Linked DNA regions of Homo sapiens. The protein of the gene in region 1 interacts with the protein of each later gene in a pairwise test. Each region holds a gene or a part of one and is shown in the gene's direction. Other genes may lie near its edges. The genes, in order: BET1, ASGR2, CYBC1 and KCNJ6.

Region 1 (7,776 bases):
AGTTAATTTATAATGAATTCCTTGGTGAAGTTGTCAAATGTTTGAATTCAACCAGTCAGTAATTACTTATTGGGTAAATGTTATATACTCAGAACCTCAGCCACACAAAATAAGAAGACATTCTTTCTTTAAGTATCTTGGCCCTTATTAAACTACAGTTTGCACAGAGTATCATTGGTTAACAGAGTAAGAATGCATTTTTAAATGGTGATTTTAATATTTGACTGAGCGGAAAAATATGCCCACTCCTTGAGTTCTTTTATAATAAAACATGTGGAGAGCTTCATGGATAGTGTGTCATGGATAGTGTGTCAGCAGCAAAATTCAGATAGTACAACTCTCTTCTGTTTGGAAAATACTTCTTCAATATTTTGTTGTGGTTTTTGTGGTGGTGGAGATTGCATAGGTATCTGCTGCATATAAAGTACTCATTAGGTACAGGGAGGATATGGAAGCATGAGATACTGTCTTTGCCTTCAGAGAAGCATATGATTCCATTCTGGACAAAGGTATGCACATTCAAAGTTCAATAACAGTGAACTCAGATTCTTTTCATTAATTAGTTCACATCATGTATTCATTGAGTGTGCCTTACAGTGTGTATGTGTTTGTAGGTTTATGGGGGGACATACAGTGTTGAGTCAAACAAACTTATTCTCTTCCCTTATAGTACTGTACAGAGTGCAATATTAGTGTTACATACAATCAGAGCTGTAAGAAATCAGTGAGAGTTTTGCTTCATAGGGAAAATGAAATTTCTATTGTGCCTTGAAAGAAGTTCCTATTCACACCTTGACTGTCCTTCAGTGATCAGTGCTGTTACCTCCTGTCACTGCTGCTGCATCTGCTCATTGAGCATATGGAGACTTCTAGTTTTGTTTGTTTTTAATAGATGAGGTCTTGCTGTGTTGCCCAGGCTGGTCTCAAATTCCTGGCCTCAAGTGATCCTGCCTCCCTCAGCTTCCCAAGTAGCTGGGATTATAGGTGCAAGCAACTGTGTGCAGCAGGCTCTGAGACTTCTAGTTTTGATATCATTCCTTTCCCCACATTCTCAAGTCACTGTTGAATCTGCTTTAATATCTGTCCAATCTAATCCCCATAATCCAGATCTTCAACCGCTCTTTTGGCAAGCAGTCTCAACCTCTTGGGGCTCCGTTTTTCTGCAACCTCAATATTATAAGCTTCCAACTATAGATTAGTCCAACCATCCACCTTCTCCTGGACTAACTCAGGCCGATGAACTCTTCTGCAGAAAAAAACCACACACCTGGGACGATTGAAGCCACCGTAGTATATTGCCTCAAACAAGTTTGTTTTATCTTTAGTAATCCTGTGCAGTCCCGGTCCCTTTCCTCCATCATTCTCCTTACTGTATATTCTGAATGATCACCCATTCTTCAGCAGATAGCCCGTTTTCTCCCTTTACTGAGAAAATTGATGGCAACAATTATGTTAAAAAAAAGTTCACGCCTGTAATCCCAGCACTTTGGGGGGCCGAGGCGGATGGATCATGAGGTCAGGAGATCGAGACCATCCTGGCTAACAGGGTGAAACCCTGTCTCTGCTAAAAAATACAAAAAAAAAAAAAATTAGCCAGGTGTGATGGCGGGCACCTGTAGTCCCAGCTGCTCGGGAGGCTGAGGCAGGAGAATGGCCTGAACCTGGGAGGCGGAGCTTGCAGTGAGCCGAGATCGCGCCACTGCACTCCAGCTTGGGCGACAGAGCGAGACTCCACCTCAAAAAAAAAAAAAAAGTATAGTTAACTAACACCCTGAACTATGCCGTTTCCTGTTAATCGCCCAACATATTTATATATGTATTCACTAAGGCCCACTCCATCTGTTGTTTGATAGCCTGATGACTATGAAGTACTATATTAGGCAGGGAGGTGTACATTCTTATCCCTTAGAGTTCCATAAAAGTAGCACCTAGAAAGAACAGTGGATCTGATACATGGTAATTCTTCAAATATATGTTGAAGAATAAATGAATCTCCCTCTTGACTCTCAGCTAGCATTCTGCATAAGTTATTGTGTCTCTTTCCTAGAGCTTCAGTTTGCCCCCTCCCTGCTTTGGCTCTTTCCTGTCCAACTGTCTATTTAAGAGAAAGAGATGCCAGTAAAGAACCCTCGCCGCTATGAGCTCCCGTCCTTCTGTATTAACCACTTTTCCCTTCCTCTTCACAGCCACGCTTTTTCAATGGGTAGATGATGTTACTGCTTTTAGAACTTTCATTAAAATATATGTTTCTCTTGAGCAGGGAATGTATCCTGAATATTCTTGTGTATTAGTACCTATTTTTGTATCTTCTGGACAATCAATAAGCAATCCAGAAATGTGTATCAAAATGAACTGAACTGAATATTCTTTGGTTAACAGAGAGTAATGGAAAGAATTGGTCTGATCTCTGTTTGGTTATTTATTTTTTAAATTCATTTGGAGTATGAATATTAGAGACATATGTGGTTTGCAAGGCCCTCCAGGGGTCTTTTTCAGTTCTTTCCTAACTAACAGTGTTTCAAAAGTGGCTTCTCTAGAACCACCTTTGTGACTCTGATCCTTGCAGGTGAAGGAGTACCTCCTGGCAACTATGGGAACTATGGCTATGCTAATAGTGGGTATAGTGCCTGTGAAGAAGAAAATGAGAGGCTCACTGAAAGTCTGAGAAGCAAAGTAACTGCTATAAAATCTGTAAGTATATAACAAATATTATATGTGTTTTAATTCATATATTTCTATACATATAATTATAAACTATATATTCTTATTGACGTCATCCTAAGGAATTCATTTACTCAGATACTGTGGTTTTGTGAGGTCAAAGTACACTCAAAATTTAGACTGTGCTTTGAGTAAGTTAAAAAATGTGGCACATCAAAAGATAGATTTTTTTTAATACTTAAGAAAAATCTCCAGCTCTTTTTTGTATACTGTATGCTGTCTGCTGTAATGTCTCAAACAGAGCTGTCCATCTTCCACCCCCAAGTAGCTCTTCTGCTTTTTTTAATCTAGCCTTCTAAGCTATAAATCTTGGTCTTTCTTATTTCTACCTTTGTACTTCATTTCAGTCACTGAGTCTTACACTGTCTTTCTGATGTTTCTATCTTTGCCTTTCTATTTCTAATACTATCCCCTGGTTTTCTTTTCTTTTCTTTTTTTTTGAGATGGAGTTTTGCTCTTGTTGCCCAGGCTGGAGTGCAATGGTGCAGTTTTGGCTCACTGCAACCTCTGCCTCCTAGGTTAAAGCAATCCCCCTGTCTCAGCCTCCCAAATAGCTGCGATTGCAGGTGCCCGCCACCACACCCGGCTAATTTTTGTATTTTTAGCAGAGACAGGGTTTTACCATGTTGGCCAGGCTGGTCTTGAACTCTTTATCTCAGGTGATCCGCCCGCCTTGGCCTCCCAAAGTGCTGGGATTATAGGTGTGAGCCACCGCACCTGGCCTATCCCCTGGTTTTCTTAGTTGAACTATTGGAAGAACATCTTAACCTATCTGTTCCTGTTTTTTTGCACATTATGATCTGAGCTATATAATCATTGCCACAGTCCTCGTTTAGAATATTTTAAAACTTGCATCCTGCACTCCCAGAAGTCTTCAGCGTCCTTCCATGATTTAATAAAGTTCATGCTTCGTAGCTTGATTAAATCAGATAGATCTTTCAAAAATTGGCCTTAGCTTTTGAGATCTTATCTCTCACACTTCCAGAATCTGTATGTGCTTCCTGCTAGACAAATTACACTTTGTGTCCTCTGTATGCTGTCACTTTCCCACCCCCATATCACACTATCCCTTTGCCTTAAGCCTCCACTTCCTTCTTAGATCAACTGAAGTGCTGCTTATCCACATCCGCCCCACTTCATTGCACCCCCTCCCTCCAAACTTTTACCTGATTACCACATCCAAAAGTAACTTTTCTTCTTATGAACATAAGACCATTTGTGCCATTTCTGTAGCACTTATTCATAGTGATTTGCATTGGCATTATTTGTATGTAAAAGGAATTTACCAGAATGCAGGTTTTCTATTGTACTTACTTTATATTCTATATAGCACTTAGCATAATTCCTTATCAATGGTGTTGAGTAAATTTGTATTGAACCAAAGAATTACACGAAGATGATTTTAATAATATATGTGATTGATACTGCATTATAATGAACATGACGTTCACTTATAAAGCATTCAGTAGAAGCCCATGTTGATAAAACTTAATTGGTATTTCAATATAGTCTTTGGAAAATCGAATTACATTCAGTCTGGAGACCTTTAGATTTTGAAACAGGATTGTTTTCAAAGTCATATTAAACTAAAGTTGATTTATGAACTAAGTAATATTGTATAATGTTAATTTTAAAAATACAACACTTGGAAGGACTTAAGAATTAAATGCCTTTAAAAACCCCCCCAATGTAGATAATTTAGATTACTTGTTAGAAGAAAGTTGTGATGTCCTGGAAATATTTTTCCTTGGCATGAATGACAGTGATAGAAGTTGAGTAATGTGGGCAGTCTAGCTTTATAGTTACTTTATTATCTCTGAGTTGTTAAATCTGGGAGGAAAGCTCATGTTCTGATCTATAGAATTCTAGTATGGTTTTGTATCAGTATTATCCCATGTGCTTTCACACAGATGAAGAACAATATTTGCAGTGATTTACCAAGATTTTCAGTAGATGATTCTATTTATTTAAATATCTTGGAAGTGAAGCCTTTGATGAATCTGTCCTATAAAGTATTAGATAGATTTTGGTTTGAATAGTTGTCATAATTAGCTATAGTATTGTATTTTGTAAGCTATGGCTCTTTTCTTCAGAGCTTCAGGAAGTAAGTAACACTAATATTTATTTTTTTCAATTTATTATCATATTTTAAAGCAAAAACCTTTAAACTAAGGAAAAATCAGTTTAGACATATTTAAAGTAATGTAACATTTCATTAGGAAAATATTAAATACTTCTGTCTAGATTTGAATTGGTTGTATGGGTACTTCTAGATCTTTCAAAATGTAATAAGGTTGGGTACTAGGCTTAATTCTTGGTTGACGAAATAATCCGTACAACAAATCCATGTGACATGAGTTTAACTGTATAACAAACCTTCACCTGTACCCCCAAACCTAAAATAAGTTAAAATATATATATATAATTTATAAAATATAATAAATAAAATGTAAGAAGGAAATATACAGATATTTGTAGGAATTTGTAGCTTTTGTAGGAATATAATAAAGATATAAAAGCATACAAGGTTAAGAGAATCAGAGAGAAGTAGTACATACCAAATTAAAAGATGGAATTGAATATTAAGATGAAATTAAAATAAAGAGGAAAGAAGAAATGTCCATAATTGGGAGGAGTAGAAATTCCAAATTTATTTTTTATTGATCTTGGTAGAAAAAGTATCAGAAAAAGAGAGTTTATGTGTCTAGAAGACCGTTTCATTTCAGAAAATGTGTATGCTTAGAATGACATTATTTTTACTTTATAACACTTGAATACTTTTATGTGAGTAATCCTGTGTATACCTTCTTCTTTATAGCTTTCCATTGAAATAGGCCATGAAGTTAAAACCCAGAATAAATTATTAGCTGAAATGGTAAGTGGTTATGATTTTAACTTTAAGAAATTTGATCTAATATTCGCAAATAATAGAATTTCAACTTTTATTCATTTTGAAATACAGAGATCGTAAGTCCTTGATTCCCGTCCATTTGTATCTAATGTGTTTGGAATAACTATAAGGTTTATTTTGCCATGCTTTTGCATTTTTCATCTCGTCTTACGCATGTAAGTGGGAGGAACAAGTGGAAGCCAATATATCTTTAATCCTGTTTTTAGAATGATTGTTAAAAACAAGACAAATGACTATTTTGAGTAGTCTTAGAAGTCTCAATAGTAGAGACTACTAGTAATTTATTAACCAAGCAATCAAAAGGCACTTGATATCCAACCAACTAAATGTCGTTCACTTAATGGATACTTACTCTTTTGCTTGATTTCCTAAGGATCACTTATGAAAAAAGTGCTCATACATTTGAACAGCCCAGAGCCTTTTCTCTCTAACAACATATACCTTTTCTTGTTAGAGTCCCCTTCCATTTGTTAACGTTTATCTTGAATGTCAAGCTTCTCTGAACCTTCTCTGGTTCCATGTGCTTTTAAAATTGTGCTATTCAAAAATGAATTTGGCATCAAAAGCAATGTTCTTGCTAAGCTTGTGCGCTATAATAAGCTAGGGACCTCTTTAAAAATGTATATGCCTGATTCTGTCTTTAAATATACTGATTTAGAATTTCGTGAGGAGGGATCTAGATGTAAATATTTTGAAAAAAGCATCTCTGGTGATTCTGATGCATAACCATGAAAAAGCATCTCCGGTGATTCTGATGCATAACCATGGTGAAGATCCATAGATCTAAAGTATATGAGCCACATAGACACTGAGCTATACAAAGGATATTTATTATTATGCCAGGGCTTTTACATCTCAGGATATTATAATTTCTATGAAAGTATGTGTAATATTTCTAGTCCCTACCTAAGCCTCTCTCATCTTTAGGATTTTCCAGCTATGTTTTAATACGTTAGTTTTTCCCCATCCATATTTATAGTCCTTATCACATTTTACTACCTCTATATGATATTCTCTTAACTTAATAGACTCTACTTCAAAGTCAGCTGTCTAAACAAAAGGATATTAAAAGTAAAGGTCCAAGGCCTAGCATGGTAGCTCACGCCTATACTCCCAACATTTTGGGAGGATGAGGTGGGCGGATTACCTGAGGTCAGTAGTTCAAGACCACCCTGGCCAACATGGTGAAACCCCATCTCTACTAAAAATACAAAAAAATTAGCTGGGCGTGGTGGCGTGCGCCTGTAGTCCCAGCTACTTGGGAGGCTGAGGCAGGAGAATCACTTGAACCTGGGAGGCAGAGATTGCAGTGAGCTGAGATTGCACCACTGCACTCCAGCCTGGGCAACGAGCGAGACTCCGTCTCTAAATAAATAAATAAGTAAATAAAAGTACATTTAACTGCTAACCGTATTACATTTTGGATGAAATCCTCTACTTGGGTAGCAGTCAACCATTTGACCTTGGAGAGCAATGGCACAACAAAAAGTGGGGAAAAAAATCTGTGTGATAATGCACAAAGTACTTACATTTATTGTTAATTTTTTTTATCCACATAATTGGAATAACACCTAAATAGTTTTGAGTTGTTGAATTACTCTGTGGAGCTGAAAGAAGTGTTTATTGGACAATGAAAGAGCTTTTTATTCGCTGAGAGTATTACTGTATTTTGCATGGAGAAATCAGGCTGATTATCCAAGGTTATCAACAGGCTCCTGAATTGATTAAACACAAAACTGTCATTACAAATGTACTATGGTAACAGTTATTCAATTACTTGGATATGCATATGTAGACTCTTAGAATCTAACTGTGATATTTTATTTGCCTTTATCTCTGATAGGATTCACAATTTGATTCCACAACTGGATTTCTAGGTAAAACTATGGGCAAACTGAAGATTTTATCCAGAGGGAGCCAAACAAAGCTGCTGTGCTATATGATGCTGTTTTCTTTATTTGTCTTTTTTATCATTTATTGGATTATTAAACTGAGGTGATGCATGTAATTGTGAATTTGGAATTTGTTCCAACTTAATGGCTTGCAGTACCACTTTGATAAAAATCAGCATCAAAACATTCCTAGTGTTCAAATACTGTGGCATTTTCCATTGAAAATTGCTGAATTTTGCTTATTTTATAAAT
Region 2 (7,896 bases), on another chromosome or scaffold:
CTGTAATCCCAGCTACTCAGGCGGCTGAGGCAGAAGAATCACTTGAACCCGGGAGGCGGAGGTTGCAGTGAGCCGAGATCGCGGCCACCGCACTCTAGCCTGGGCAACAAGAAGGAAACTCTGTCTCAAAAAAAAAAAGAAAGAAAGAAAAAAAAGAGAGAAAGGGAGTCTGGAGATTGTCTAGTTTCCCTAGTGGGAAATATATTCAGTAGCATGAGACCAGAGAAAAAATAATTTCTCCCAATTTAACTTTTATCATTTAAAAAAAAAAAACCTATGTCTTTTTTTTTTCCTGGAAGATTTTCTAAATTTTATGTTTCAGAGCTTCTATTAATTTTTCTGGAGTTAACAACATGTATATATTTTTTAACTTTCAAAAGGTCTCGTTTTCTGAACAAGTAGAACATACAGGAAATTCTGGCTTATCAACAAAGTGAATTCAGGAAAGCCAATAGAAAAACTGGTAAAGGATATGAAAAGGCAATTCATGCAGGAGGAAACCCAAATGATTAATAAATCGATGAAGAAATGTTCAAACCCACTGTTAGCCAGAAATGCAAAATAAAAGAACAAGGATATGGCATCAGCTTGGCAACAATTGCGATGTTAATAATATCAAGCGACAAAGCCAAAAAGAGAACCCTCGTATACTGCTGGTGGGAGTGTGAACTGGCAGAGCCATTCTGGAAAACAGTCTGGCAGTCCTGAGTGGAATTAGGTATGGCAATACTCTGCGAATGAGCAATACCATTCGGGGATATAGTTTCCTTCCTTCCTTCCTTCCTTCCTTCCTTCCTTCCTTCCTTCCTTCCTTCCTTCCTTCCTTCCTCCCTCCTTTCCTTCGTTTCTCTTTTCTTTTCTTTCATTCCTTTTTTTTTTTTTTTTTTTTTTTTGAGAAAGGGTCTTGCTGTTGCCCAGGCTGGAATGCTGTGGTGCGATCATAGTTCACTGCAGCCTTGAACTCCTGGCCTCAAGTGATCCTCCCAACTCCAGCTTCCCAAGGTGTTGGGATTACAGGCCTGAGCCACCATACCTGGCCTGGATACAGTTTCAAGAGAAATTCTCACCTAGGTCCACATGGGAACACGATGAGGACATCAGTCGTCATGTTAATTGTGATAGTTGTTGGCAACAACCTGAGTTCATTATTAGGGGAAATAAACTGTGATGGATACACACCATTGAATACTGTGCAGCAGTTCATAGCAACAAACCAGATAAACAAATAGCAATGTAACAATCCATTGTAACAAATAGCAATACAAATAGCTCTAAAAAATTTCTTGTTGAGTGAAAAAGATCAGAAACAAATGAGATATATGAAAGTTCTGTGTATGTAAATACAGAACAGATAGACATGCAAACCCCATCACATATTTTATAAGGGTACCTACATATTTAGTAATATATATTGTTTCAGCTATCTACCGATGCATAATAAACCACCCCAAAGCTCCAGTGGCTTAAACCAACTGTTTTTTCTTAAGATTCTCTGGGTCAGAAATTTGGGCAGGGCTAGGCTGGGCGGTCCACGGGGTATTGGTTGGAGTGAAACACTTGGATACAATCAGCTGGTGACTGGGCTGCCCTGGAAACTCCCAGAAGACTTTGCTCACATGTCTGGGGCCTCAGTGCACCTCTGTGTGGCCTCTTTCTCTCTCCATGTGCTGTCTTATCCCCCAGGACTCTCTCTGGCAGGATAGTTGGACTTCCTCATAGCATGGTGACTGACTTCCAAGATTGAAAACTGAAGCTACCAGGTTTCTTGAGGTCCAGGCCCAGAACTGGCAGAGTGTCATTTCTAGTGCTTTCTGTTGGTCAAGGCAAGTCACAGGGCCAGCCCAGACTCAAGGGGAGGGGAAACAGACTCTACCCCTGGCTGAGTGGTGTGACTTGCACATGTGGTGAGGGGAGAAATTGATGGGCACCATCTGTGGGGACTGTCAGGGCACTCAGACTTCTGGCTGCCTATAGAGAGTAGAGAGTATAGAATTAGTGAGGGGAAACAGGATGGGAGCTAGGGAAGAACGAAACAGGACAAAGGTTTAGCTCAGACCTCTGAGGAAGACCTAGTGTCATGAAGTAAGGAATATGACCAATCTAACCTTTGTGTCTGAGGTACAAATAAACCCCAAATCAAAATCAACCAAATAAGGCCGGGCGCGATGGCTCACGCCTATAATCCCAGCACTTTGGGAGTTTGAGATGGGCGGATCACCTGAGGTCAGGAGTTCAAGACCAGCCTGGCCAACATGGTGAAAATACAAATAATTAGCCGGGCGTGGTGGTGCATGCCTGTAATCCCAGCTACTCAGGAGGCTGAGGCAGGAGAATCACTTGAACCCGGGAGGTGGAGGTTGCAGTGAGCTGAGATCGCGCCATTGCATTCCAGCCTGGGTGACAAGAGTGAAACTCTGTCTCAAAAAAAAAAAAAAAAAAAATCAATCAAAGAAAATAGGATTCCATAACCCAAAACAGAAAACCTCCAACAATATGGAAACTTCAGAAATAGTCCAAGTACATGTTAACTTCTAAGTTAAAATGATTTTCAAATAGGGAGAAAGAGAAGGACGCAGATGAGTCTGGCTTTCTCTGTCCCTTCTCTCCCTGTAGTGCCGTGAGTGGGGGTGTAAGTGACAAGCCCTGAAACGTGGAATTGGTTCAGTCAAAGGGGTGGCCAATGAGGATGGCCCCATCCCTGGTTGGCAGTTGGCAAAGCTTGACATGCAGTAGACAATCCATCTGTGAAGCTCTTACCTGTATCTCAGGACTAAATCCACATGCCCCTTAAGATGGGGGCTTCACAGCAGTGTTGTTCAGACTTTGAGTTGTGACCCATTAATGGACTGGGAAACTCAACAGAAGGCACGTAGTAAGGTGAGCATTGTCCCATCAAACTTTAGTGTCAACCGTGTATTTCCAAACGCATTATTCTATTCACTCACTCACTCAGTAGATACTTGTTGAGCAGCTACTGTGTGGCAGGCACTGGGGATCCAGGAGAAAGTAACACATACAAATGCACCTGTGTGTGCGGGTGCTTGTGTGTATGTTCTGGATCACAGCATGAAATTCGTCTCTCGCTGTGGGCTGCAGTCAGAGAGCCCAGCGGCTGCTGCTGCCTGGTGGCTGGGTGGGAATGTCAGGGTACTGGGGGGGTGGCTACTTCCCATGTGGGTCAGCAAGTTACAAGAACAGAAAAGGCCTCTGTTTGAATTCCTTTTCGGCACCCGGGGAAACGAGCAGCTTTATAAGAAACCCTGCCCGTAGCCATCCGCCCAAGTTTGGTGAGGGTCAGAAAATCATGCACAAAAACTGTGTTTTCTTTCCCGAGCTATTGTTAGCGCAAGTGTAGACAGTCAGCCACGTTCCTTGCTTCATGGAAGCCAGTCTTCCTCGTAGGACCATGAAGACCTTTTCTTTTCTTTTTCTTTCTTTCTTTTTTTTTTCTTTGAGATGGAGTTTCTCTCTTGTTGCCCAGGCTGGAGTGCAATGGCGCAATCTTGGCTAATGCAACCTCCGCCTCCCAGGTTCAATCGATTCTCCTGCCTCAGCGTCCTGAGTAGCTGGGATTACAGGCCCCTGCCACCACGCCCGGCTAATTTTTGTATTTTAGTAGAGACAGAGTTTCACCATGTTGGCCAGGCTGGTCTCGAACTCCTGACCTCAGGTGATCCACCCACGTCGGCTTCCCAAAATGCTGGGATTACAGGCGTGAGCCACCGTGCCCGGCCAGACCTTTTGTTATGATGTTATTTTCCCCTCTTTACTCCATTTTGCTTTGCCAGTTTCTCTACTCACCTGGGCCACCACCTAGAGCAAGTTGCCTCATCTCTCCGAGGCTCCGCTTCCGAACCCTGTGAAATGGGAGTAACAGAAGTCCTGCCTCGTGGGGGTGTTGTGCTGTGATAAATGAAGAAACACCTTGGAGAATTTAGGGCAGTGGCTGGGCCTGAGGACAGTGTTTGTGTTGCCTGGGCTGGGGCAGGGTCTGGGCCGGACGGGGCTCTCTGAGGTTGGATTCCTCCTGCGAGGAGAGCTGTTTTTCTGCAAAGCCCCTTCCTCCTCCTGCTGAAGCTTCTGGATTTGAGAGGCTTTACTCTCCAGGAGAGTGAAGCGAGTTGGGCCAGAGCTGAGAGTCTGGTGGCCGAGCCCACAGGAAGCTGGGGTCTGTGGTTCAGATGCCGGATTGGGCAAGAGTAGAGAACTGGTCGCTGTGATCCTGGTCAGGGATATTTGGAGACACCCACAGTTCTGGTAAATTCGGAGGCAGGAAGTGAGAGGGGGAGGGAGAGAGGGAAACGGCAAACTGCACCCCAGCCCCTCCTGGCCTGGCACCCCTTCCAAATGGTGCAATGAGTGGGGTGAGTGGCGTGTGGAGTTGAGCGCAGCCCAGGGGACCCCCCTCTCTGGGAATAAGAACAGAGATAGCCCCGTCCCCTGCCCCCACCCCACAAATGAGTTACAGCTCTGTTTCCTCTTCTGTTTACTGTCCAAAGTCCCAGGCCAGGAGGTGCCAGGTTAGAGCTTGGACACTCAGACCCTCCAGTGCAGGCCTTGCCCGGACCAGCCCCTCCTCCACTCTCCTCTCCCCTGTGAGCTCCACCTGCCCCAGTTCTCCTGGCTTTAACCCCTCCTTGGCCAAGGCCAGGGTTGCCTGCGGGAGCCAGGTGTCCGCTCTCCACACCTTTCACAGGTAACTGAGGCTGGGGAGGCAACTGGGACGAGGATGCTTGGGAACAAGGAGGCCTTGGTTCAGGGATGGGGAGGACCCCATGGGAAGCTGTGGGTGGTCGGGTCCATGAGCGTGGGGAGGGGTCTCCTGGCCAGGTCAAGGCCCAAGCGGTCTCCTGAGAAGGGAAAGGACCCAGCGGGATTTCAAACCTCATCCCAAACGCCCTGCCAACCTCAGATCCTACCCAGGCCACCACCCCGAACCCCTCCGACCCTGCGTTCCATCCCACCATCAACCTCCACGTGAATCTGCACCTCTGCCCCAGCCCCAGCCCTCAGAGCAACCTCAGCCCAGCCCAGCCCAGCTCCAGCTCCAGCTCCAGCCCGGGCCCCATCATGGCCAAGGACTTTCAAGATATCCAGCAGCTGAGCTCGGAGGAAAATGACCATCCTTTCCATCAAGGTGAGGGGCCAGGCACTCGCAGGCTGAATCCCAGGAGAGGAAATCCATTTTTGAAAGGCAAGTGTGCAGTTTCTGCGGCTTTGCTCCCCCTCTGTCTCAGCTCATGATTGCTCTGTCCCTTTGAGGTCTCTGCCGCACCCACTCTGTGAACAGGGACTGAGGAGGGCCCGACACCCCCGCTTGTTCCCTCACCTCACCTTCCTGTCTACCCCAGGACCCCAGGAAAGGCATGTGCCAGAGGTGTGGGGAGATCTGGAAGATAACTGCCTGCCCTTCTCCTCCCAACCCAAGAACACATGTGCCTCGTATGTGCGTGTGCACGTATGTGCATATGAGGAATGCAGATTCAGCTGGGACTCTGTGTGTGTGTGTGAGTGAATGTTGTGTGTGTGTATATGTGCGCGAGAGCGTGCATATGTTGTGTGTGTGTATGTCGTGTATGTGAGAGGGTATGTTGTGTGTGAGAGTGTGTTGTGTGTGTATGTTGTGTGAGTATATGTTGTGTGTATCTTGTGTGTGAGTGTATGTTGTGTGTTGTGTGTGTATCTTGTGCATGTGTGTATGTTGTGCGAGTGTATGTTGTGTATGTGAGTGTGTGTATGTTGTGTGTATGTTGTGTGTATGTATGTTGTGTATGAGTGTGTGTATGTTGTGTGTGTGTACGTTGTGTATGTTGTGTGTGTGTTGTGTGTGTGTATTGTGTGAGTGTATGTATGTTTGTGTGTTGTGTGAGTGTTGTGTATGTTGTGCGTGTGTGTATGTTGTGCGAGTGTGTGTGTTGTGTGTGTATGTTGTGAGTGTGTTATGTATGTTGTGTGTGTGAGTGTGTTGCGTGAGTGTGTGTGTTAGTGTGTGTATGTGATTGTATGTGTGTGTGTGTGTGTGTGTAGAGGTGGGGTGAGTTGGGATGGGTGGGGGACGTGAGCACAGAGAGATCCTGGAAGATCCCTGCTCCTCTCATCTCCCAAGACCCTTCCCTGGATCCTTCTGTAATAAATCTTGACTGAAGGACCTAAGTATCTTGGACATTTTTTTTTTAGAGACAGGAGTGTAGTGGCAGGATCATAGCTCACTGCAACCTCGAACTCCTGGGCTCAAGCCATCCTCCCACCTCAGCCTCCCAAGTAGTTAGGACTTACAGGTGTGCACCACTGTGCCTGGCAAATTAAAAAAAATTTTTTAGAGAAATGGGGTCTTGCTATGTTGCCCAGGCTGGTGGGAAAAGATTTTAAGGTGAGAGAGATCTGAGCAGTGCTAGGCAGAAGGGCAAGAGCCAGGAATGGAGGAGTGTCAGGTGTGTGGGTGCTGGTGGTGGAGCCGGGTTCCATGGAGGCAGGAGGAGCAGGGGCTTGGAGCTTAGGAAGGGGATTGGTTAGCTGGGCTGGAATGAGGGACTCCTCATTCCTGAGGCTGGCCAACCGAGGGAGGGCCGGTGCTGGGCAGGGCAGGGCAGGGGACAGGAGGGATAGGAGGTCCCTCCCGAGGACCACTCAGGAACACCAGTAGCATCTCCTCTCTCTGTAGGGGGCTGGCTGGACTTCCCACCAGGCGGTGTCCCCACAGGCAGAGGCCCTGTCCGCCTCACTCTCCTCTGCAACTCCAGTGCCCACACGGCACCCGGTACATAGTGAACACTCAGAGAGAATACGGGATGCTGCTGAATCTTCTGAGGGTGACAGAATTTAGAGTTTGAGCAGGAGGCTTGGAGAGAGGCCAGGATTTCTGAAATTAATGGGAGAGTGAGCTCACGCGAATGGGCTGAGGGACACCAGTGAGGGACCGTCTGAAGGGATGTAGCAAAGTCACCGCATTTCCCTCCAGCAGCCCGGGTGGTGGGGGCTGGGGGAACGTCATCATGGGAGCTGACACTGATCAGCTGCTCACCGGGGCCCATCTTCCACTTGTCTCAGCACTTGATTTTTTTCTGCTACCCCCTTTTTCTTTTAAAGATTTCAATTATGCATGTATTAAGGGTCCCACAGCTCACTCATTCTCTTTCCATTTTTTAATTCTTTTTTCTCCCAGTGTTTCATTTTATAGAGTTATTGCTGTTCATTAAGTTAACTAAAATTTTCCCCTTCCCCTCCCCCTCCCCTCCCCTCCTTTCCTTCCCTCGCTTCCCCTCCCCTCTCTCTCTCTCATCTCACTCTGTTGCCCAGGCTGGAATGCAGTAGCTTGTCACAACTCACTGTGGCCTCCACCTCCTGGGCTCAGGCGATCCTTCCACTTCAGCCTCCCAGGTAGCTGGGACTATAGGCATGTGGCACCACACCTGGCTAATTAAAAATTTTTTTTTGTAGAGACGGTTTTGCCATGTAGAGGGGTTTTGCCATGCTGCCCAGACTAGTCTTGAGCTCCTGGGCTCAAGTGATTCCCCCCGTGTCGACCTCCCAAAGTGCTGGGATTACAGATGTGATCCACAGTGCCTGGCCCTAAATTTTTCTTACGCATTTCTCATCTTCCATTATTTCCATCCAGTGTGTTTTTTCTTTTCTTTCTTTTCTTTTTTTTTTTTTTGGAGGCGGAGTCTCGCTCTGTTGCCCAGGCCGGAGTGCAGTGGCGCGATCTTGGCTCACTGCAAGCTCTGCCTCCCGGGTTCATGCCATTCTCCTGCCTCAGCCTCCCGAGTAGCTGGGACTACAGGCGCCTGCCACCACGTCTGGCTAATTTTTTGTATTTTTAGTAGAGATGGGGTTTCACCATGTTAGCCAGGATGGTGTCGATCTCCTGACCTCATGATCTGCCCGCCTTGGCCTCCC
Region 3 (6,443 bases), on another chromosome or scaffold:
TAACCACGTGATGGGTGATCGTGGGTTCCCATGTCTCCTCCTCCCTGGTCCTCAGACCTCTTCGTAGGACTCACAGTCCACTTAGCCTCCCGTCCTCCATCGCTACCCACCAGTAGGGTCCTGTACCCTTGGGGACAGCTGCACTTGTGTTGACGGGACACCGTGTGAGGAGTGGTGCTGGCTGTACCTCAGCAGCTGGGGCCCACCTTTTTTGTGACACGCCACAGCCTCCTGTGTGTTTTGCATGACACGCTGTGTTGTAATTTCTTTGTGCACAGTCTTCAGGCCTCACCACGTGCTACTGGAGTAACACCCGTGTCAGTTATGGAGCCTCACACAGCAGATGTGTCTAGTAAATACTGTGAATAGCGTATACTGTGTTTTGCTTTTGTTTTCTTTAGTAATGAGGTCTCGTTATGTTGCCCAGGCTGGTCTCAAACTCCTGAGCTCAAGCGCTCTTCCTTCCTCGGCCTCCCAGGTAGCTGGGATTACAAGTGTGTGATACTACGCCCAGCTATACTGCATTATTGAACCAGCTTCCTGGCTGTTTCCCCTACTCTGAACCTGGTGGTCTGTAACCCCTGACCACAGCTGTTCCTACAGTGGGAAGGGCCTGCTCATCAGGGGCTGTGGCTCCTGGTCCCGCTGCACCAGGGAGGTGGGGTCTTACCGGGATCAATAGGCAGGCAGTCACTTTCTCTTCATAGGAATCTTGTCGATTGGCCTGGCTGCTGCCTACTACAGCGGAGGTAAAGCACCCCCCGCCCCACCCCCCCATGACTGTCTCAGCTGTTTGGAAAACAGAGAAAAGAAGGAAAAACTGTCATTTGTGACTGTCCATGGGGCGGCCTTTAGGATCGGCACCTCTGCCCCTTGATTGCTGGCGGGCACCGCGCCCTCCATGCGCTGCTGTTCTTCCGCACGCCCATCCTGCCCAGCGCTCAGCCCACATTTCACTTCTTTTTTTTTTTTTTTTGAGACGGAGTCTCGCTCTGTCACCCAGGCTGGAGTGCAGTGGCGGGATCTCGGCTCACTGCAAGCTCCGCCTCCCGGGTTCACGCCATTCTCCTGCCTCAGCCTCCCAAGTAGCTGGGACTACAGGCGCCCGCCACTACGCCCGGCTAATTTTTTGTATTTTTAGTAGAGACGGGGTTTCACCGTTTTAGCCGGGATGGTCTCGATCTCCTGACCTCGTGATCCGCCCGCCTCGGCCTCCCAAAGTGCTGGGATTACAGGCGTGAGCCACTGCGCCCGGCCACATTTCACTTCTTAAGTCTTCTGTGTTTTTGGGTCATCAAATATTCCCGGAGAGATGCTCTTGAGGATCTAAGATCCAGCTGTGGGATGAGGTGTACTTCCCACCCTGCCACAATCACTGGGCCTGCCCAGACGGGCAGAGGCCCTGTGCGCCCCACCTGCCTCTCTCACGTGGACTCTGGGGGTCAGAGCTGGGTGGGGTGTGCCGCGTGTGGGTCCTGAGTGGCCAGGGCAGGGTCAGCAGCACAGGAAGCTGCCCAGGGGGTCCTTGCAAGCGTGGGCTCTGGCCAGCGTCTGGGGGAGGCTGTGCTAGGCGGGGCCTCCCGTGGGCATGTCCCTGGAGCTCACAGGCTGGCGCCCTATGCCCATCTCCAGATAGCCTGGGCTGGAAGCTCTTCTACGTCACAGGCTGCCTGTTTGTGGCTGTGCAGAACTTGGAGGACTGGGAGGTAAGGCCGGCTCGGGTGCGGGACAGAGTCCAGGGCTGTTCAGCTCCTGGGTTTTTTGCAATGGGAATGAAAGGAGGAGGAAGGGCCCTGGGTGGCCTAGCGCCTCCCCGTCCTGAAGCGTTGGTCCCTGCTTGGAGGTCTCCGTTCATCAGGACATGGCCCCTGCACTCATCTGGGACCGTTCTTGGCCAAGGAATTCCCCGAAGGCATTTTTCTCTTAGAAGCTCTCCATGACTATCTTCACCAAAGTGCTTTCTTCCCAGAGTTGCCACAATGGGATGCGAGTCAGCTTTCCCCGTGGCCGGCCCTCCCACCTCGGAGCCCCTCATGAGTCCTTTCAGCCTGGCCCAGTGCTGCCCTCTGACCTCCATGCCCTCGTTTGCTGGTTCCACTGCCTCCCTGCACTTGTTTTGCCTGCAGGGTGGAGCAAGCGCCTGCTGCACCTGCCCACCTCTCCATTTCCCAACAGGAGTCGGGTTGGCTGCCGATATCCGGCTCTGACAGAGCAGCACCTGTGGCTTCAGGGGTTTGGGTTCTGACTGGGAGGGTCCCCAGCCCCCCTTCTTGAGTGTCCACCCTGGTGAGGGTGGGGGTGAGGCCCCAGCGGCCACGGGGCCCCCGTTCCTGGAGGTTCATGGTGGTCAGTGCATGTCGGTTTCCAGGAAGCCATCTTCGACAAGAGCACAGGGAAGGTTGTTTTGAAGACGTTCAGCCTCTACAAGAAGCTGCTGACTCTTTTCAGAGCTGGCCACGACCAGGGTGAGTCGTGGGGAGCGTGGGGACATGGGACACGGCCACAGAGGCGGCGCACTTGGGCGTCTGGGTGACTCACGGGGCCTAGAGGGGGGCCTGGAAGTGCCTTTGGTCCAAGCTCACCTGCTTGGTGACCAGGGTTGTGTCCTGCCCGCTGGAAGCAGGATCCCACGGATACGCCCCACCTGCTCACCTGCTCAGCAGGGTCCTAGAGCCTCCTGGGTTCTTTAGAGGTTTGGCCCCTGGGGAGAGTGGGAGGAGCAGGGGTCTGAGGAGCAGGGGTCTGGCAGAGCAGGGGTCTGAGGAGCAGGGGTCTGGCCCACCCGGGCTCGGGCAGCCTCTGTTTAGCTGCATTCTCCCGTCTGCCTGGCAGCCACTTGTCCGCAGGTGCAGTCTGGCCCCAGCGGCAGGTCACAGGACGGGGCAGGGAGAGCCATGGCAGCCCGTGGGCGTTCTGGAGTGGGGCCACCTGGCTTCTTGCGGGCCTTGGCGCTGCTCCAGCTTTCCTGTGGGTTCTACTGGGCCTGCAGTAGGGGCTGGATGGTCCGAGGAACTCCCCACCCTTGAGCCTGGGCACTGGCCCAGCTGTGGTCAGTACCAGTTTCCTGTAGATGCTGCCGCACAGACAGACAGAGGCCCCGGGGTCCGGCCGCCCATGCATAGCCCCAGAGGGGACAGATTCTGGCGACCAGAGTTGCTGGGCAGTCTTGGGTTTAGTGCCGCAATGCTGCACTTCTGACAGGCTGCTTCCTGGATCCCTGCAGGGACCTGGCCAGGGCATTGGCCCCAGGTCACCTGTGGCTTTGGGGAGAGCAGTTGCAGGGCTGGCCTGGGCTGTGGGAGGCAGCTGTGCCGTTTTCTGACAGCCATTGGGACCGCCCCAGTACCCGAAGAGGTGGCTGCCCTGAGTTGCCACGGGAAACTGCAGGGTGGCCCTGGCTCAGCAGCCAACCTTGGGGAGACCTGGAGGAACAGTGCAGTGTAAAGATGGCCTCGCGCTGAGCGGGTCCCCGCAGTCGGCACTCCCAGGAGAACCAGCGGGCTGTGCATGTGACCCGCCAGCCTGCACCGCGGGCACGTCCTTCCCACCCAGAGGACCCTGCACTGCCTTCAGGGCCACAGCAGTCCTCCGGGGCCCAGCCTCAGGCAGGAAACAGCAAATGCTTTTGCTGCCAACCAAGTGTGGCTGTCGCTTTCGATGATGCCAGTGGCGCTGGTGCGACTGCCGGGCAGCATGTGTGGGCGGGGATGGCTCGGCCACTGACCGTCTCCCCGCAGTGGTGGTCCTGCTCCATGATGTCCGTGATGTGAGCGTGGAGGAGGAGAAGGTCCGGTACTTCGGGAAAGGCTACATGGTGGTGCTCCGGCTTGCGACGGGCTTCTCCCACCCCCTCACGCAGAGTGCAGTCATGGGCCACCGCAGGTAAGGCTGTGGGACTTTGATCTGGCCGGAGCTGCAGCCGTAGCAGGTCACTCCCGTTCCTGACTGCCCAGAGCTATGGGGCAGCTGGGAGAGGAGATGAGTTTGTGGACGGGACACAGAGGGGCCCACGGGAAGCGTGTGCAGGCTCAGGGGCAGCCCCACTGTGACGGGGAGGCTGGGAGCAGGCCAGGAAGTGCTGGGTCCAGTTTGGGAGCTCCAGGGTCTGCGGGAGGTAGGTGGTCGAGGAGGAGACTGCTGTGGGGTCTCACGGTGCCCTATGCCGAGGTGACCTGACCTTCCTCCCGTTGCCGGCCTCGCCCAGTGATGTGGAAGCCATCGCCAAGCTCATCACCAGCTTCCTGGAGCTGCACTGCCTTGAGAGCCCCACAGAGCTGTCTCAGAGCAGCGACAGTGAGGCCGGTGACCCTGCAAGCCAGAGCTGACAGCCCCACTGTGCCTGAGCCCGTGCACCGCCCACAGGACCCATGGCACATTCCCGGTGTGCCTGAGCCCGTGCACCGCCCACAGGACCCGTGGCACATTCCCGGTGTGCCTGAGCCCGTGCACCGCCCACAGGACCCGTGGCACATTCCCGGTGTGCCTGAGCCCGTGCACCGCCCACAGGACCCGTGGCACATTCCCGGTGTGCCTGAGCCCGTGCACCGCCCACAGGACCCGTGGCCTTGGCTTCAGTTGGTGCCTCCAGCCGAGTTGGCCTATTGCCTGCTCATGCTGCTGCTTGCACACTGCATGAAACAGCAGGCCAGACCAGGACATCCAGACTTTCTCCATCGTGAGGCCTGGGCCTGCCTTTCTGCAGCCGGAGGTCTCGCCAGCCCTGGACTCCTGCTTTGGGCCACAGCAAGACCTCGGGCGAGTGGAGAGGCGGGGCCAGGCCGGGCCCTTGTGGGTGCTGATGCTGCATGTTGTCCCCGACACAGCGTCCTCTCCCTGGTGGACATCCCCAGCGGTCAGGTGCTTCCCCAAGGGCAGTGAGGGGTGAACATCCAGGGCCTACCTGGCTGTGCACGCTGCAGCCACACTGTGGAAGCTGCCCCTCCCCGAGGACCCGCCTCCCTTGCTGATGCCAGGATCTCGGCGCATAGACCACTCTGCCCCAGCGGTCGTCACAGAAAGGTCTCTCTGTTCCTCACACTCAGCTTCAGCATAAGCTGTGAGGCCAGAAAAAAGGTCAGCTCTTCTAGTATCGTGCAGTGCTTAAAAACCGGGAGCTCCAGCCGGGCGCAGTGGTTCATGCCAGTAATCCCAGCACTTTCGGAGGCCGAGGTGGGAGGATTGCTTGAGGCCAGGAGTTCAAGACCAGCCTGGGCAACACAGCAAGATCCTGTCTTTGTAAAAAAACTAACCAAACAGGAAAAACTGGGAGATTTTCTGCAGAAATTGAGTTCCAGCCTCTCTCGAACCTGGGAAGACCTGGCAGGAGGGGGCTGGGCTCTCGGCTACAGACTTCTCCCCACCCCGTAGGAGCTGAACGCCAACCATCCTGACCCGCCAGTGCTCTTGGTCTCCTGAGTGTACCCAGGTCCTCCCAGGTGCGGTGTGCACCGAGCGCGCCTGGCCTGATGCCCTGGCCTGTGAGCTGGGGACTCCTGGGCCCTGTGAGCCCCTAGGCGGCAGGCCCAGGAATGGCTGGGTAGGACAGGGAACACCTTTGCCCCACGTCTGGCTGTGACCTCGGTGAAAGCCGACAGGAGAGAGATGGGACCCTCCTCCTCAGTAGTGGCTGCCAGTCCCTCGTTGCAGGACAGGGTCATCATAACCATAAATAACCCTTCACGTGTCACCTGCAGCTTCCACTCTTTATTTCCAAAGAATCAGTGTCACACATGCAGATCACAAAGCGGGTCTCCCTGTGCTGCTTCCTTCTGTGTTTTCTAGTCTCTCCCCCAGGGGCTGCCCAGGGCCCTCAGGAACTGAGTGTGGGCAAGACACTGCTGGGCCAGAGGGCACGACGCCCACGTGGGCCCGTATTGCCCAGGCCATTTGGCAGTGCAGAGCCCCCCCAGCCTCCAGCAGGAGCCCCCTGGCATGAGCTCTCCCCTCAGGGGTCCTGAGCAACGTCCCTGCCAGGGCTGGTGGGTGGCAGCGGGGGGGCAGACACCTCGCTGAGGTCCTGCAGCAGAGCTTGCAGCCGCTGCAGGCTGGGGTGCACGTTTTCCTCCAGCCACTCCTCCACGGCATCCGGGTAGAAAGCCAGCTGCAGGGCAGCCTCCAGCTCCTGCACGAGGGTGCTCCACTGTGCCAGGAGGCTGCAGGTGAGGGCGCCATGAACGCACAGTCTGCACACTTGGGACTTGCCCTCAGCCCCATGGTCAGTACTGCCCTGTGCCTCAGTTCACCTGTGAAATGGGGCTACTGACCCTACCTCATCGGCATGTCGGGAGGAACAAGTCGGTGACAGCTGCACATCTGAGACCAGAGGGCCTTTTACAACTAGGGGCTCACCCTCTGCTCTCTAGTTGAGGGACATGTCAGCAACAGCAGCAGTTCTCAGGGAACCCATGGCTGCACGGCCTATAAGAGCCCAGGGCCTCACCTGA
Region 4 (7,776 bases), on another chromosome or scaffold:
GCTCACTGCAACCTCTGCGTCCCGGTTTCAAGCGATTCTCCTACCTCAGCCTCCTGAGTAGCTGGGATTACAGGCGCACACCACAACACCTGGCTAATTTTTGTATTTTTAGTAGAGACGGGGTTTCACCATGTTGGTCAGGCTGGTCTCGAACTCATGACGTTGTGATCCGCCTGCCTCAGCCTCCCAGAGTGCTGGGATTACAGGCGTGAGCCACCGTATCCGGCCCAGCCAAATTCTTTCTAAGGGTCCTAGGACTGAAGAGGGTGGAGATATAGTTTCCTCTCGGTCTAGAACTGGAAGGAATCAAAACAACACTGGTGAGCTTCCGAAAAGGAGAGAGAGTTTGTTAGCAAGATGAGAGCCAGTGATCACATCTTCAAGCCTGCGTGTGAGCAAGGTGGCTACATTTCCTAGGTTGCAGTCGTAGGAAACCGAGAGGAGTCACTTCTCTTAATACAAACAAGGAAGAAACTGCAGGAGGGGAGGATTTATTACCATTCAAGTTCCATTTCAACATTCATACAGGGAAAACAGGTAAGTCCATCAAGCCCTTCTGCTCTCACTTTACGAGAAGCTGGTCTTTGCCCTGCTCTCATCCTTGGTAGTAGGTCCCCCACCACCACAACTGTCACTGATATGAAGAGGAAAAATAATACAGGAAGGTGACAGTCATATTTGAAATAGAATGCCTGTCAGAGTGCCATCCAGGTGTTACAAGGTATACTTTGAATTGCAGAGCCCAGTCAAGGTTTGGCAACTGGTTGGAAATGTTGATAAAGCTTCAACAATATCCCTGGCTGCTTTCCTGTTTTGTGGATGCACTTGTGCATGAGGTCTTGAGCTGGTTCTGGTTTGTTATTTTTAATGGTAAACAAGATATGATCCTGGTTTTCCTTGCTGGGCTTTCCAAGTGTGACATGTTGTTTCTAAAGATATTGCATGCTGAGCACTCAGGATGTGGTTAAAGCAGTGTGTTTCTACCTTCCAGTCTTTTCAAATGATTGCTAGTGAAGACAGAGCAATCTATTTCAAACCTAAGCAAAAGGATGAGTTATTACACTATTTCTTACATTTCAGTTCCTGATAGGTATTGACAAGTTTATCCATAATTTAGTTTATGAAAAGGTTGCTACCTAAAGTAGACAGAAGAAGTGACACGTGGAGTATTAAACAACGCAGCTGTTCCTTGGCCTTGTTCCATCTGACATTATCAGCAGAAGGGAAGTAGACGTTCATTATGAGGATGAAGCTATACGAGAATATAGACTGTTAGATAAACAAAGTAATGTATTTCTGAGTTCTAAAGTTCAATTTCTCTAATAAATTAAAAAGGGGGGTGGTGTCAATAATCTAGGTATATGAAATTGTTCAGTCAATAATCTTTACTTCTGGTAGTTTCCATGCTCACATATTCAGTGCTTATTCACCGAACTATGACTTGCTTTCTTCCTAGGTGGCTAATTGATTAACAAAGTGTCACTATGCCCTTTTCAGTCAATAGCATACTCCAAAATAATTGGTTTACTCATTTCAAGTAAGATTTGTTAAGGAGAGCAACTTGTGAAAATTCGCCCCCATTCACTTGGTTCCATTTTGCTATTTTAAAAAATCATTTTGATACCTCTTCTAGGTATTGCCTAAACAATAGTTACCTCATCTAGATATTGCCTAAACATTAGTATGTTTTCCTTTGTGTGAGACAGGTCTTTATTTAATACATAGGACTTACATGAACTATTTTCCTTGAGAATATAGAAGGGCTTTTAACTCAGTCTCATATTCCTCCCTATCATCTCAGTCTACCTCTACTTTATAGGGAAAAAAATTAGAATAGTTATTTAAGAAGTTATAGAAAAAATTCATTGGAGATTAAAAATAAAATACCCTTATGGAATCTTAACCCCATTCACTGATTTTCACAGGTAGAAAATGTTGCTGTTCTCAAGGGTTTAATGTTGACCATGTAAACCTTAATGAAAACAAGATAAATGCTCTTTATGGAAAGGCAGGCAGATAAGGTGAAGCTCTTCTCTTTTTCACCAGTTCTTCCTTTATCAAATGATATGTAAGTAATATGGAAATGGAAATGGACCAGAAATAGGCAGAGTAGGAGGAAAGAAGAAAGTGAGGGGAAAAGGCAGTTACTTATTGCTACCAGCTTTAAACTGACAATACTTTTCAAAGTGAGGTTGGTTTTTCTAAGTTCATTGTATTAGAACTTTAAGTTTGGTGGAATTAAGATGTTTAAATTCAGTGAATTTGGATTTATAGCTTATTGAGATGGCATTTCTTGTTTCTTCATTTTATCTTCAATAATTGGCATTTAAGTACCAAAAGATAATTGATTCACTCTGGAGTTTTACAAAATTATTAACTTTGGTAATACCAGTAAGGGGGAAATTGGCAGTTAAGTTGAAAAATCATCAAAACACTTTTGTTGAGTTAGTTTTCTTTTTAATTTTAGTGAAAGTATTTGGAGAGATAGAAGAATAAAATGTAGCTGTTTAGGATAAAAATACATTTTGAAGTGCATTTTAAATAATTATTTCTAGAAATAATTAGGCTCCAATAAAAAGAAGAGATAATCACAATTGCAGTTAGTGCTCTAATGGTATTCTGAATTTCCTCTGGCAAAGTACTAGAATATACATATACTTGCTATCATTTTAATAACATTAAATAATAGTGAAATTATTTTCCTCAAAGAGCGGTCTCATCATTAAAAGAAGAGTCTGTATCCTCTCTAAACTATAGCTTTGATCTAATCATACCTGCTAATCAGTTGTAAATATTCATTTATTTATTTGTTACTAAATTGAATCATTGTTTAAACAAAACCTCAGAGAATGATTTTGTGCAGTGTGCAATGTTCAAATGGTCATTCAGATCTGATTTTATATGGAATGCAGTAAGGCCATCAATCAATTTTCCCAATTACAATGTGTAAAGTTAACCCTAAATTTTAACCAAGTGACTAATTTATGTCTATACAAATGTATCCAAGTCAGATTAAACCCATTATCTCCTTGAGTCTCATGCTTCTCATTTTTTCTGTATGGCTGTGCTTAGGACCAGGAATCATACAGTACTGGTGATTCTTTTAGTGAATAGATTTTGGCTAACATGTATCACCGGTCTTATTCCCAGTCACAGAGATGTGGTTTCCGACATGAAATCCTTACAAAAGGAACCAGAAAGTGCATCTGTGGCTAAAAAGATCCATGTCCTTGCCAACAACTGTTCTGTGGGACTAAATCTGAAGGTATTATATGCAATGTGAGAGACATATCTATAAATTAAGTTTAAATCCTGTGGCAGTTTCCTCTTTAAACTTACAGACATCTACTTTTTTCTTATCCAGGATAAGAATTGATTTTTTTCATGATGCTTTAAATTTCTCTTGTATCATCTAGCAGGAACTTGTGCAAGTTTGACAATGTGCTTGGTAGGCGGTGTTGCTCCGTGATTAAGAGCACAGGCTCCGGTGTTTCTTACTAACTGAATCTGCATCAAGGTCTAGGTGTATCTGTCCATTTTTGCCAAGTTTGGGGCAGTAACAGCAACCCCAGCATCTCAGTGGCTTACAAAACAAAGGCGTATTATTCTCTGGAGCGCTATGCCTCTGCTGGTCAGCTGTGGCTCTGCTCCTGTGACTTCATTCTGGAATTCAAGATCAAGAATTGGTCTGGAACACTCTATCCCAGTATCAGAGGAAAAGGAGACTCCCAAGTTAAGCAATGGCCCTTAACATTTCTGCTCAGACATGGCACAAGTTATCCACTCACATTCCATTGACCGGACAATTCACATGTCACATCAGTGTCAATGATCAATGGGAAGGAGATGTATATTTCTCCCACAGTGAAGCACTGCAAGCCGTGCAGCAACAGGTAGAGACATCTAATCTTTCAGAGAGGGAAGAGAATAATTGGAGGCAATAATATAATCCACTATGCTAACTATGTGACCTTAATCAACTTTATGCCTTGCTTTCCCTATCATAAAATAATAACAATAAGAGTAATAATAACAACATATACCTCAGAGATGTTATGAGGATTCATGTGATAATGTAAGTAAAGTTCTTAGCACAGGCCAGGAGCGGTGGCTTACACCTATAATCCCAGCACTTTAGGAGGCCGAGTCAGGTGGATCCCTTGAGGCCAGGAGATGACTTGAGACCAGCCTGGCCAAAGTGGCAAAACCCCATCTCTACTAAAAATACAAAAATCAGCCAGGTGTGGAGGCACATGCCTGTAGTCCCAGCTACTCAGGAGGCTGAGGCACAAGAATTGCTTGAACCCAGGAGGCAGATGTTGCAGTGAGCTGAGATCACACCACTGCACTCCAGCCTGGGTGAGAGGGAGACTCTGTCTCCAAAAAAAAAAAAAAAGTTCTTTGTGCAGTGTCCAGCACAAAGTAGGCACTTTAAAAATAGCAGATGTTTTTATTCATTTATTGCAATGTGGCATTAACTTCAGTTCTTGATGAGCCTGTGTATACTGTATTAATTAGAAAGTTCTTGAAACAGAAAATATCTAAATCTCACTAATTTAACAAAATAGAAGATTTCTTTCACATAAATCTAATTGGTTGATGCCGTACAAGGACCCAGGCTGAGGGACACTTTGTCATCTTTAGTACATGGCTTCTAAGATCTGCTGAGTGGTGATATCCAACTAGCAGACAAGGAAAGAGGGAGAGTAGATGATTATGTAGAAGATTTTAATGATCCGGGCCTAGAAGTAATGTATATCACTCCTATTCATATTCTATGGTCATACCTAACTGCAAGAGCAGCTGCAAATTGTAGTTCAGCTCTATATCCAGGAGGAGGGAAACTGGTAGGGTGAACACACTGGAGTCTTTGGTATGCATGCCCGATATAAATGTCTGGCAGCAAAGAAATACAGCTAATGTGAATCAGGATAGAGTAAGGCAGAGGAAATGATTTGTCCCAGTGGTGAAAAGATTCCTGGTAGAGACAATATTTCCTGGTGCCCTTGAATCATTCTTTAGTGGTGTATTTTTTTAAAATAAATTAGTTGGGATATGTTGACTTTTGGAGTAGGTGTAGATGATTCTTAACAAAAGAGATGCAAATACATATTGTTTGATTTCTGTTAGCTGATCTGTTAAAGTAGACACAAAGGAGAAAAGCCAACTTCACAACCCATGCTCAAAAGCAATGTTCTAATCTTGACAATTACACCCACATTGTGTCTAAGAATGCTGAAGAATTAGATGCTGTCTTCTAATATCTGGCACTTGCTGTTGACTAGCAATTTGCATTTTGTTTTAAATCCCCTAAATGTCCATAGGCTAGATACATGCTGTAAGTTTAGGTTGAATTAGTCTACTAATAGTCATTGTTTTCCTGAAAATAGACCATGTAATTTGTAAGCAGTGTTTGAGAACCTCTGCTTCCCTCAAGGAGAAAACTTGGAAACTAAGTTCCATACCTTTTCACTAGAAGCAAAAGAACAGCTTTAATGCCAAACTTACAACCTAGAAAAGAGAAATGTCAGGGAGAAATATCTGAGAAGACTATGAGAGGAAGAACCAGAAGAAACAGAGTGGTGATCCATAATACTTCCGGTTCTCTTACATCGTTTCCATTTCCCTAACTCAGATATCACAGCCACATACATTCATGCAGGGGAAAACATTATCAAAATGAAACAGTAAATACCAGTAATGCATGTTAATCCTTCCATGGGGCAGTAATACTGGATTAGAAAACTCTTGACCTCTTCAAATATCTTGCCATTCCAAAGTAAATAATGTCTCATAGTGGAACTTCTGTTTAATGAAGAGAATGTTTTTGAGGACAGGATTTATTTCACTGCCACATTCAATCATTTCAATTTAAAAGGGATATAATCCAACAATCTATGTGCAGAAGGGAATAGGCAGGACAGTACCTGAGTCCAAACCATGTAATATTAGAGTAGATGAAAGAATTAGGAGTGTTTTCCCTGGAGAATATGTGGGGGAGGAGGCATGATAGTTGTTTTCAGGTATCTTGATATTTGAAGATGAAGGAAGGATTATAATTGTTCTGCTGGGCTCTAAGGGATAAAAGTGGGACCCAGCAGTGGAAGCTACAAAGTGACATATTTTGGTTCAATATAAGAAAGCATTTTCAGTAGTCAGAGCGGGGCAGAGGTAATGTGATCTGTCTTCTCTGCATTTACACAGCTCTGAATTCTTTGTCACTAGAAGCATAAAGAAGCTGAGAGAGCTAGGAACTGGGGTTGGAGTGTATGTATTTCAAAGTCTCTGCAACACAGAGCACTTCTAATGGCTATGAGAGAAGCGATGCCCTTCAGGCTCAGTCAACAAATCAGACTGGACCTCACCACTCTATGGGGCCATTGCTTTATGACTGAGGGAGCCATCATTTCTCTATAAAAAAAATGAATCACATTTAACCAAAAATGATATCTCAGTCCCTACACGAACCTTGTGTCTATGAGAGCAGGTCTGGAATGCAGTAATCATATGACTAAGCAGCATCACATGACTAAGAGGAAGGGTACAGGACTCACTGCTCATGGAAAAGCTTTACCCTTGCTTTTTGTTGTCAACACACTACCTTCAGTCAAAAGACAAGGAATGAAATCTCTCTTCGGAGGTTTTTGCATCACCTTACAACATTTTCAGAGCCAAGACTCCATGACGAGTTAGGCAGAGCACACTTCAGATTTTTAGACATCTCTAACGTGCAAAATATAGTGCTACTAACATATAATTCCTCCTCTCAAGAAATCTAGTTTCAATAATGGCAACGAATGGGGTAGATTCCTTCCTCTTCAGCTGTCTCCCAAGGTCTCACCAGTCAATACCCTAAACATATTCACCCTCTTAAATTTTCATTAGCCCTCCTGGGGTGGCTGGGCCCACAGTAGTAAAGCATATAAAGAGAGGGCAGAAAGAGGACGGCAAATAAAGAACCTATGACATTATGTGTTGTCATTGGAAGAGAGGCCGCATTAGGTGGCCCTCTTTTTTAATCAGCACTCAAGGAGTGTTGGGCCCAAGCCCACACTCCACATGTCTCCTTGACTGGCCACTGTTGGGGGTCTCTGTGGACAAAAGGAGGCATCAGAGCTGATGAAAGTCAGCTGAGGTCAGTGGTTCCCATAGTGTGTCCCTGAACCAGCAGCAGCATCACCAGGGAGCTGGCTACAAATGCAAATTCTCAAGCTCACCCCCCGATCTACTGGATCAGGAACCCTGAGGACAGGGCCAATCATCTGCCCATCCCCTCCAGGGATTCTGATGCACTCTAAAGGGTGGGAGCTACTGGCTTAGGTTTTCCTCAGATCTGCTTTAAGGAGGAACCCAGACACAATGCCCCTTCTCACAGCCTTCTTCCCACGATAGAGACCTCCAAGTCCAGGCTCATGCAAGAGCCAGGTAGGGTCACAACTAGAAATGGAATGCCAGAATGCCCACTGCAGAGGCAGATTTAACCTGGACTCAGTGTCTAGGGGGGAAAAACAGCAAAAACAAAAAGCTTTTGGTCCATCAGAAAAAATACTCATGATCACACTAAGTTGCAAAGATTATGAGCACAAAGCAAGGGCTTCTCTGTTATGCAGGTTATTTAAATAAACTGCTTAGTATTTTGGAATTATAGTTAATCCATCCTGAAGTTTATTTGTTCTTTTCAAAATTAATAGTCTCATTTATTATCCTTTAAATAAAAGATGCTATCAGTGAATAAGAATGTTGTACTCTTGAGAAAAGCCATATTAAGAAAATTGA

The links.
Region 2: the proteins of BET1 (region 1) and ASGR2 interact in binary tests that used the Homo sapiens proteins (3 or more experiments, as listed by UniProt).
Region 3: the proteins of BET1 (region 1) and CYBC1 interact in binary tests that used the Homo sapiens proteins (3 or more experiments, as listed by UniProt).
Region 4: the proteins of BET1 (region 1) and KCNJ6 interact in binary tests that used the Homo sapiens proteins (3 or more experiments, as listed by UniProt).

What each region holds. Positions count from the first base shown.
Region 1 is NC_000007.14:93,994,085-94,001,860, reverse strand, and holds part of BET1 (BET1 homolog), read left to right. Parts: intron 1-2,566; coding exon 2,567-2,691; intron 2,692-5,539; coding exon 5,540-5,596; intron 5,597-7,475; coding exon 7,476-7,631; 3' UTR 7,632-7,776. UniProt on the Homo sapiens protein: Required for vesicular transport from the ER to the Golgi complex. Functions as a SNARE involved in the docking process of ER-derived vesicles with the cis-Golgi membrane.
Region 2 is NC_000017.11:7,111,415-7,119,310, reverse strand, and holds the start of ASGR2 (asialoglycoprotein receptor 2), read left to right. Parts: upstream 1-4,488; 5' UTR 4,489-4,499; coding exon of another isoform or gene 4,500-4,696; intron 4,697-4,912; exon of another isoform or gene 4,913-5,000; coding exon of another isoform or gene 5,001-5,070; coding exon 5,071-5,194; intron 5,195-7,896. UniProt on the Homo sapiens protein: Mediates the endocytosis of plasma glycoproteins to which the terminal sialic acid residue on their complex carbohydrate moieties has been removed. The receptor recognizes terminal galactose and N-acetylgalactosamine units.
Region 3 is NC_000017.11:82,441,886-82,448,328, reverse strand, and holds the end of CYBC1 (cytochrome b-245 chaperone 1), read left to right. Parts: intron 1-707; coding exon 708-749; intron 750-1,632; coding exon 1,633-1,706; intron 1,707-2,368; coding exon 2,369-2,465; intron 2,466-3,737; coding exon 3,738-3,882; intron 3,883-4,204; coding exon 4,205-4,325; 3' UTR 4,326-5,736; downstream 5,737-6,443. Other genes in the region: HEXD (hexosaminidase D), read right to left, coding at 5,737-6,152, 6,440-6,443. UniProt on the Homo sapiens protein: Functions as a chaperone necessary for a stable expression of the CYBA and CYBB subunits of the cytochrome b-245 heterodimer. Controls the phagocyte respiratory burst and is essential for innate immunity.
Region 4 is NC_000021.9:37,905,990-37,913,765, reverse strand, and holds part of KCNJ6 (G protein-activated inward rectifier potassium channel 2), read left to right. Parts: intron 1-7,776. UniProt on the Homo sapiens protein: Inward rectifier potassium channels are characterized by a greater tendency to allow potassium to flow into the cell rather than out of it.